2 separate regions of the Homo sapiens genome follow, and region 2 is linked to region 1. The links come from fine-mapping of genetic effects on gene expression. Tissue or cell type: lung. Region 1 holds a variant in brackets; the other region holds the start of a gene. All regions are shown on one strand. Distances are from middle to middle.

Region 1 (4,215 bases):
CTGACCAACAGGAGAAACCCCGTCTCTACTAAAAATACAAAATTAGCTGGGCATGGTGGCACACGCCTTTAATCCCAGCTACTTGGGAGGCTGAGACAGAAGAATTGCTTGAACTGGGGAGGTGGAGGTTGAGGTGAGCCAAGATGGTGCCATTGCACTCCAGCCTGGGCAACAAGAGCGAAACTCCATCTCAAAATACAAAAAAGAAAAAGAAAAAGAAAAAAGAAAACAGAAAAGATTTCAAGTGTAAGCAATTTATTTTTAGAGAATTAAGCATTAGGAGAGTACATAAGTGAAACTGGCCAAGGATAAAAGTTGTATTACGAAGCCAGCTACCATTGTGCACTACCAGTGCCTAATACGTTAGAGCTCTGGAAAATTGTATAAAATATACGCCTACAAATTATCCAACTAGAGGGATAAGAAAGCTGGCATTTTCATAAACCAACTCCTATCATTTATTGTTTGAGGATTGAATTGAATATGTCAAGTGGAGACAGGGCTAATTCCCTAGAACCTCCAGCCTGGAGTTTGCATGGGCAGACTGGTCCTTTATTTAGTAGAAGGAAAACCTTGGGAAGAGGATACAAATACTGACAGTTGGAAGTCACTGTCTCCTTGGAGCATGCTGAAATAATGAAGTCCAAAGAATATGGGTGAGGTACTGTCCCATATTAAATACGGGCGAGATCATTTGGCAGGCTGATGGCAGTAATGGCCCAACACTTAACTTCTTCCTGTATCTATGCCCTTTGCCATGTGACTTTGCATTTCCTCTCACTATAGAGGAGTGTACTTCTTTGCGCTTTGATTCTGAGTTTGGCCATCTTACACGCTTTGGCCAACAGGACAAGAGCAGATGCATGCAGAGGCTTGAAAAAATCTTTCACACTAACAGTCTCTTAATCCTCTGACTTTGCTGTGACACATACCTGGACTAACCTACTAACCTACTGAAGGTAAAACAGAACCAGGTTATCTCAATCATCCCAGATGAGTTATACTAGATCAGCTAATATGCAACCCATTTCCATGCATGTGAGACCAGAAGAACCAAGTTGCTGGCCCACAGACTCATGCACTAAATAAATTTTTATTGTTTCAAGAGGCATTTTGTGTTGTTTATTATGCAGCATTATTATGGCAATAGGTAATTAGTACCTATAAGGAACGTGCTACTGTAGCATAAAACAGACATATGTGGAATTAGCTTTGGATGAAGTAGGTAGCAAACAGAAGCTGGAAAAGTGTCAATGATACCACTAACAAAGCCTGGAAAAATGATGAGGCAACTCTTAGAACAAAGTGAAAAAATGATCACCCATGCTACGTCGGCATGAAACATCTGTTAGAACTGGTCACTTAAAATAACTTGAAGATGCAAAATGTACCTTACGAATTTTTGGACTTGATCTCCAGGCAGAATGTTGAAAATGTCAGCTGACTCTTACTAGTTGTATGTAAAGTACTACAAGAAAGAAACAAATGTCGACAAAAACACACACACAGTTTACAAGGAGAATATGAGGAATTAAGAGATGCTAGAATTTATTAGAATAGAAACTAAAGTTGTTTTTCATCTTTGCTGTCTCAGGCCAGAAAAATATTTTCACATTAAGATTGGCCTCAAGGTAAAGATAAAAATCAAGGGTGTGGCCATGAGACTTTGAAAGAATTAAGCCAGTGCCTAGAGATGCTCTCAGCTGGAAAGAACTTTCAGGAAAATTTAGGGTATTGTTCCTCAATAGCCAGTACCCAAAAGAGCAGTGGTTAAGTGTAAAAGCAGAACTGTAATCAGGCTAGGGAGGCTATTATACTATGGATCAGGATCAGGCAATCTCCTTCTCTCCCTGTTTCTCTTCTTCTGTCTTCCTCTTTCTTTCTCTTCCTCTACCTTTTCCTCCCTCTTCCTTTCCCCCTCAATTTTCCTCCCTCTCAGCTTTATAGACATCCCCAAGGCACGGGCTAGAATGAGACTCAAGTTGGAATCAGAAATTTCATACCTC[C/T]TATCCACTTCCACTGCAACCTCTTAAAACCAAATCAAAGATGTATTGGTAGATCAGCTTTGTCATATTGTTAGTTGGAGGCTTCATTTCTGATTCCCTATGCCCTTTGATGTTAATATAACTCAGTATCTAACAGTTAACAAAGCAACAACAGTAAGGGCGTGCTGCCCAGGCGATATGATGCAAGGGAAGGACATTGAAATAGTCAAGACTTTCAACTTCAGGGGTGGGAGTTGTTCAGAGAGAACCCTGGAACGATGCCCTTTTCAGAAATATATTTGAGAGGCTGAAGAATGGAGGCTGAAAGATTCATTTGTTTATCACTTTTGACCAGAGAAGTTGTCCGCATGTGTGTAAACAGCAAACAGCTCCAGGTCTTACAGTTGGCCCTCCACACCACACTATTTTAAAATAATGAGTACTATCATTTTCCAAGAGTAACACCTGGCTTACAATTACTAGCAACACTGCAGGTCAGAAAAACAGACTGCTTTTCTGAATGCAACTTGAAAAACTCCTTTTTGATTTCTGTAGCCAGAGGCAACAGAGCTAATAAGTTTCAAACACTACAGGCTCCAGAGAGCTGTAGTTTTTTTCTTTCTTAGTTGGAAGAGCACATATGAAATAAAAATAAGTATAAAATTCTGCCACGAAGAAAGTTACATTTCTAGCCCACAATTTTTTTAAATCTTAATAATAATAATGATAATGATAATAATGAAAATCTAAATGTCACATTGATTGGCAAAAGAGAAAAGGCCATGCCTTCCGACTCTAAGTCCAGTGCTCCTTCCACTGCCAGCTCATTTGACTGGATAGATTAGATACTATAAAGATAATTTCTACTCTAAAAGTTTTCAAGTAAGTTTTTTCAATATATACACTTTTTAACTTTAGAAATGGAGTCTCATTCTGTCACCCAGCCTGGAGTGCAGTGGTATGATCATAATTCACTGTAACCTTGTACTCCTGGGTTCAAGTGATCCTCCCCCTCAGGCTCCCAAGTAGCTAGGAGTACAGACATGTACCACCACACTCAGCTAATTTTTTAATTTTTTGTAGAGATGGGGTCTTGCCATGTTGCCCAGCTTTGTCTCAAACTTCTGGCCTCGAGCAATACTCCCATCTTGGCTCCCAAAGCACTGGGATTACAGGCAGAGCCTATAATCTCTATGTAATCTCTTCTGGCCTCAATATTGAGATCCTGTAAATTGTTATTTGGGGGTGAAAAAAAAGCATGTTACAAATAGTATGTCATATGATCACATATTCAGAACACTCTTTTAAAAGTCTAACATAATTGACAATTGAACTAATTATATTCATATTAAGCTGAAGACAATTCATCAATTAATTTATCAAAAGCAATACCTAAATGGAAGGGACAGCTAGTATTCGATGATTCTCTGAAGAATACAGATGAAGAAAAACTACTGCTTTTTCACCAAATGTCAGTCAGACTAGTCATTAAAAGAGGCTTCTGAGGGGGAGTCATCAAATAATATCCCAAAATTGAATGACTGAGAATACAGTCTGACAAATTATTATTGAAAATATTATAATCTAAGTCTCTAAGATAGCCTTATAAGGAACTGAGAAATTCTACAATGCTTGGAATAAACACACTTGGAAAAAACTCCCAATGTACAGGTAAACCCATATCTAAATCATGCTGGTAAGAAGTGTTGTTTATTAACTTGGGGCAGAAATAATGTTCAAAAACTTTAACCCCTTTGACCACATGGTACCACTCAATCAGAATGAATACTTGGTAACGCAATGTATTTAACACAAGCCAGTTAAATATCAACCATGGTTTTAGGTAGCAGTAGTAAACTGAGTTAAGCAATAACCATATTCTACCTGAACCCCACTAAACCCTTAAAATAAGTGCTTAAAAGAGTAAAAGTATATAATCCACAACTGATCATATTGAGAGATGTTCCAGTGTTGAAGCTATAAACCCATAGAACATTTCTGGTCCAAGGGCTAGTTTTGTTTGTCCTGCACGGCATTTGTTTAATGTCAATTAATTGACAATATTTTGTAAACAGTAGACTTCATACAAAATATTTTTACTTCTCTTGAAATATCAGAAGGTCCACGAATAATGGCCCACAACTCCTCATGACAACAAAATAGTTAGCAGCATTTTTTCTCATTTTTGTTTTTGTTATTTCAGAAAGGGCATGCTCCCTGTGTTGATGCA
Region 2 (4,215 bases), 260 kb after region 1:
GGTAACTTTAATATATGCAAACTAATAAAAGTTCTACCATTAAAAACCCATCCTTTGGACAAGGCAGCAGCTTTATAAAATATAATATAATGACTCATTTACAATGAAACTTTACCTGTGTTTCAATTAGAAATATATTTTTAAATAATATTTTTCCAGATACACTGAACTAATACTGTATCATTAGGCTAAACACATATTGATTCAAACTTATTATCTCAAAATTCTGTTATATGAACAAATCTGTGTGCTAATGGGGCACACTAACATTCAACTAAAGTGAATTGTATAGACCCATAGCATTTCACTGGATGATTAAATTAAATGTTTAGAGAGAAAATTAAATCTTTCAAGTCACTAGCAGATTATTCTTGCCCTGAAAATCAGCTGATGCCGTTGCTGCTGTGAATAAAACAGGCATTTGTAACACGGTAAAAAACTAAAAGAATAACATGGGGATAACATTTAAAGATTTCTATTCCCCCTTGAAGCCATTTCTATCAATATAGTTTGTAGACATCTATTTTTACTGTCATCAAAAAGTCTCTCACATTCACATTAATTTTATAAGGAAGCACGTTACTATTACTACTACTTTATTTATAGAAAAAGATTACTCTGCACTGTAACTAAATTGGCTATTTTAAAACTTAAAAAATTAATAGGATTCTGTTAAGTACCTAACACTACATCCATAGTCACCTTCATCTGAAAGCCATGAAGAGACTGATTCCAGGTGTTAAATGATTGAGCCACAGAAATTGATCCAAGTATTCTGCTACTGTTTCCTTTGACATCCTCCCCTCTGGCTACTGTCTACGAAGAAAGTAATTAGAAAACAGCATGTCTAATAAACTAACAGGCAAGTCATTGTTGATCAGATATGGAAACCACATTCTAAGAAAACGAAAGGAAGCCGAGCCGCACACCTGATTTTGTTATGTGAGACCCAATGACAAAAAAAAAAAAAAAAAAAAAAACCCAGATTACAAGCTGTTCAAGTAAGTTTGGGTGCTGATTTTCTTTTTCAAAACCTGAGCAGAAGAAAAACGTCAGGGTTGTTTGGAAGCACCGAATTACAAGATCCTGAATAAGCTGCTTCATCAGACAGACAGCTAGAAAATCCTATTTGCAAAATAGCTCCCACCAGCTTCTTTTATGTCCGAAGTGAGACTCAGTTTTTGGCTAGAAGATACACTCCTGTCAGCGGTAAGGAAGAGGAATGGTGTCTCTCCCCCTTTTCAGAAACACCAATCCCTGGATGAATGGACAACAGGAGCTCAATCTCACAGACGCAGGACTGACCCGAGTACAGTCACCGTCTCTCTCCCAACCCTGAGGGACAATCCCTTTGTGGCACCTGGGGAAGAGAGTATCCAGACAGCTGGTCGGAGTCTGGCAGCGCGGGCAGCAGTGCGGCGGCCACGGCTCCCGGCGAGAAGGTGTGTAAGGTAGGCTGGGTGAAGCGCCCAGGAGCGGAGGGGACAGCGCTGCACCCTCGCTAAGTCTCGCCGCGCTGGGCGCGTATCTGGGGTCCCCAGAAGCCAGCAGAGAGAGACTTGCGACCGGGGCTGAGCAGGAAGTGGGCAGAGCCCCTTCCCCCGCTGCCGTTACCTGCAGCAGCCGAAGCGCAGCCGCTGGCTCTTGCTGGATCCGCAAGTCGGCTACCGACTGGACAGCAGCTACTGCTTCCACTGCCTGCACCTGCCGCTCAGCAGATCCCTCTTTGCACAGGGCACCCCACCCCGGGAATCCCAACGCCAGGAGCCATCCGTGGCCATGGCGGGGGCTTCTCGGCACCCGACTGGGACGCCCCGGCAGCTCCTTGTGGCGCTCGCCTGCCTGCTCTTGAGTCGCCCCGCGCTGCAGGGACGGGCATCCTCACTTGGGACCGAGCCCGACCCGGCGCTTTACCTGCCCGCCCGGGGTGCGCTTGACGGCACTCGCCCCGACGGCCCCAGCGTGCTGATTGCCAACCCTGGACTCCGGGTGCCCCTGGGTCGTTCCCTTTGGCTCGACCCGCTCCGGGATCTGGTGATTGGAGTGCAGCCGGGGGACCGGTGCGAAGTCACGGTACTGGACGCCCTGCCGCGGCTCAAGGGCGCGCTCTCCCCGCGCCGCTTCCCCTGCACCTTCGGGCCCCGCCAAGTCCAGTACACTCACTTCGGCTCCCACAGCCCCGGACGCGCCCGGGTGCTGCTGCAGCTGCGCTACGACGCCCCGACTCACACTCTGGTGCTGCCCTTCACGCTGGCGGTGGACTTGGTCTTCTCCCAGCTGGAGCTGGTGACGCGTAACAGGCCTTTGGTAGTGGAGAAGCTGCGAAGCTGGAGCCGCGCCATAGACAGGAGAGTGCTGGACTTCGCCTCCCTGAAGTCTGGAGCCACGGCCACCCGCAGGTGCCGGCTTACCCCACTTCCTCACGAGGACGGCCCCCTGCCCAAGTACGGGCGCTTGGTGGACGCGGTGGGGGCCCCTCTCCCCAGGGGCAAGGGCGTAGACTGTGAGGCTTTCCTCCGTGCTGGGGTGCGCTATCAGCACACAGCCACCTCCTCGCCCAACCGTGACTACGTGCCCATGATGGTGGAGCTGCTGGGGCCTGAGGGCCAAGACGCTGGGTCCGCGGGTGTGCTGGTCCGCGAGCACTTCCAGCTGCTCGTGAGGATCCGCGGCGGAGCCGAGAACACACCGCCCAGGCCCAGCTTCATGGCCACGATGATGATGGAGGTGGATCCACTGGTGCTGACAGCCCTGACGCCTGACGCACTGGCCGCGGAGGACGTCGAGTCAGACCCTGGTGACCTGGTGTTCAACATTCTGAACGCCCCCACTCACCCACCAGGGCACCCGGGGCAACAGGGCTACGTGGTCAGCACCGACGACCCTCTAGGGCTTCCAGTCTCCTTCTTCACCCAGCAGGAGCTGAGGGAGCTGAAGATTGCCTATCAGCCCCCTGCAGAGAACTCCCATGGGGAGCGCCTCTTTCAGCTGGAGCTGGAGGTGGTGGACGGAGACGGCGCCGCCTCAGACCCCTTTGCCTTCATGGTGACAGTGAAATCCATGAATACTCTGGTCCCAGTGGCTAGCCATAACAGGGGACTTGTGCTTTTTGAAGGTCAGTCAAGGCCCTTGTCCAGCACCCACAGCATTCCTATCAGTGATAAAGATAACCTGGAAGAGGTGAAAATGGCTGCAGTCAGGGGCTTGAGACATGGGCAGCTGGTGGTGTTTGGGGCACCTGCTGGGTGCAAGTATTTCACACCAGCGGACCTGGCAGCAGGGCGAGTGGTGTATCAGCATGATGGCAGCAACACCTACAGTGACAATATCATCTTCCGGATGGAGGACGGGCACCACCAAGTGGACTTCCTCTTTCCCCTCACCATCCTACCTGTGGATGATGAACCACCAATGGTCAATACTAACACAGGACTCTCACTCACTGAAGGGCAGGTGGTCCAGATCTCTCCCTTTGTACTGAGTGCTACTGATATTGACTCTGAGGACTCAACCATCCACTTTGTGCTGGAGAACCAGCCCCTAAAAGGAAATGAGGAAGAGCCTCAGTGGGAGTTGGCCCCTGGTTCCTCCCACTCAGGCCACTACCTGGGGGACCTGTTGCTGCAGCAGGCTGAACTACCTCTCTCAACTGAAGATGAAGACTGGCACTACATGGAAAAGGAAGGGCTTTATGAGAAAGTGGTGACTGAGTGGCTACAGAGAGACATAATGGAAGGGAGACTCTTCTACCGCCATCTTGGACCACACAGCCCTCAATCTGTAATGGTCCAGCTGGCTTTCCATGTGCAGGATGACCATGACCCACCCAATCTCTCCAAACAGCACATTTTCACCATCAAGGTCCAACCAGTGGATATACTGAGTCCACAGCTGTATCCAGGAACTACACTAGAAATGACTGTACAAGAATACCAACTCACTCACTTCCAGAAGAATTTCCTCCGATACATTGACCAGGACTCTGATGACCAGAACCTATGGTACACCCTACTGACACTCCCGACTGACACAGATGGCAACCACCAAGTCCGGGCTGGAGAAATTGTGCTCACTGATTCACCAGACACACTCATCATGCACTTTACCCAAGCCCAGGTAAATCAGCATAAAGTTGCCTACCAGCCTCCACAGAAATTGGGTATTGCACCACGGGTTGTGCAGTTTACTTACCAGGTGGAAGATGCTGCAGGCAAT

Evidence for each region. PIP is the estimated chance that this variant, and not a neighbour inherited with it, causes the effect.
Region 2: FREM3 starts here. The variant in region 1 is the best candidate, but not a certain one, in a credible set for the expression of FREM3 in lung (TOPMed, PIP 0.54).

Annotation. Positions count from the first base shown.
Region 1 is chr4:143,962,084-143,966,298 of GRCh38, reverse strand. All of the region lies in intron 9 of LOC105377459 (a long non-coding RNA gene), which reads right to left. The region is part of intron 3 of LOC101927636 (a long non-coding RNA gene); the gene reads right to left. Among named protein-coding and RNA genes, the nearest start is that of GYPB, 55 kb to the left of the region's middle. The variant C/T (reference allele first, on the strand shown) is at 2,007.
Region 2 is chr4:143,698,240-143,702,454 of GRCh38, reverse strand. FREM3 (FRAS1 related extracellular matrix 3) reads left to right here and starts at 1,780. Exons shown (of 8, transcript NM_001168235.2): 1 at 1,780-4,215. The coding sequence starts at 1,780. RefSeq lists an enhancer at 1,756-2,413.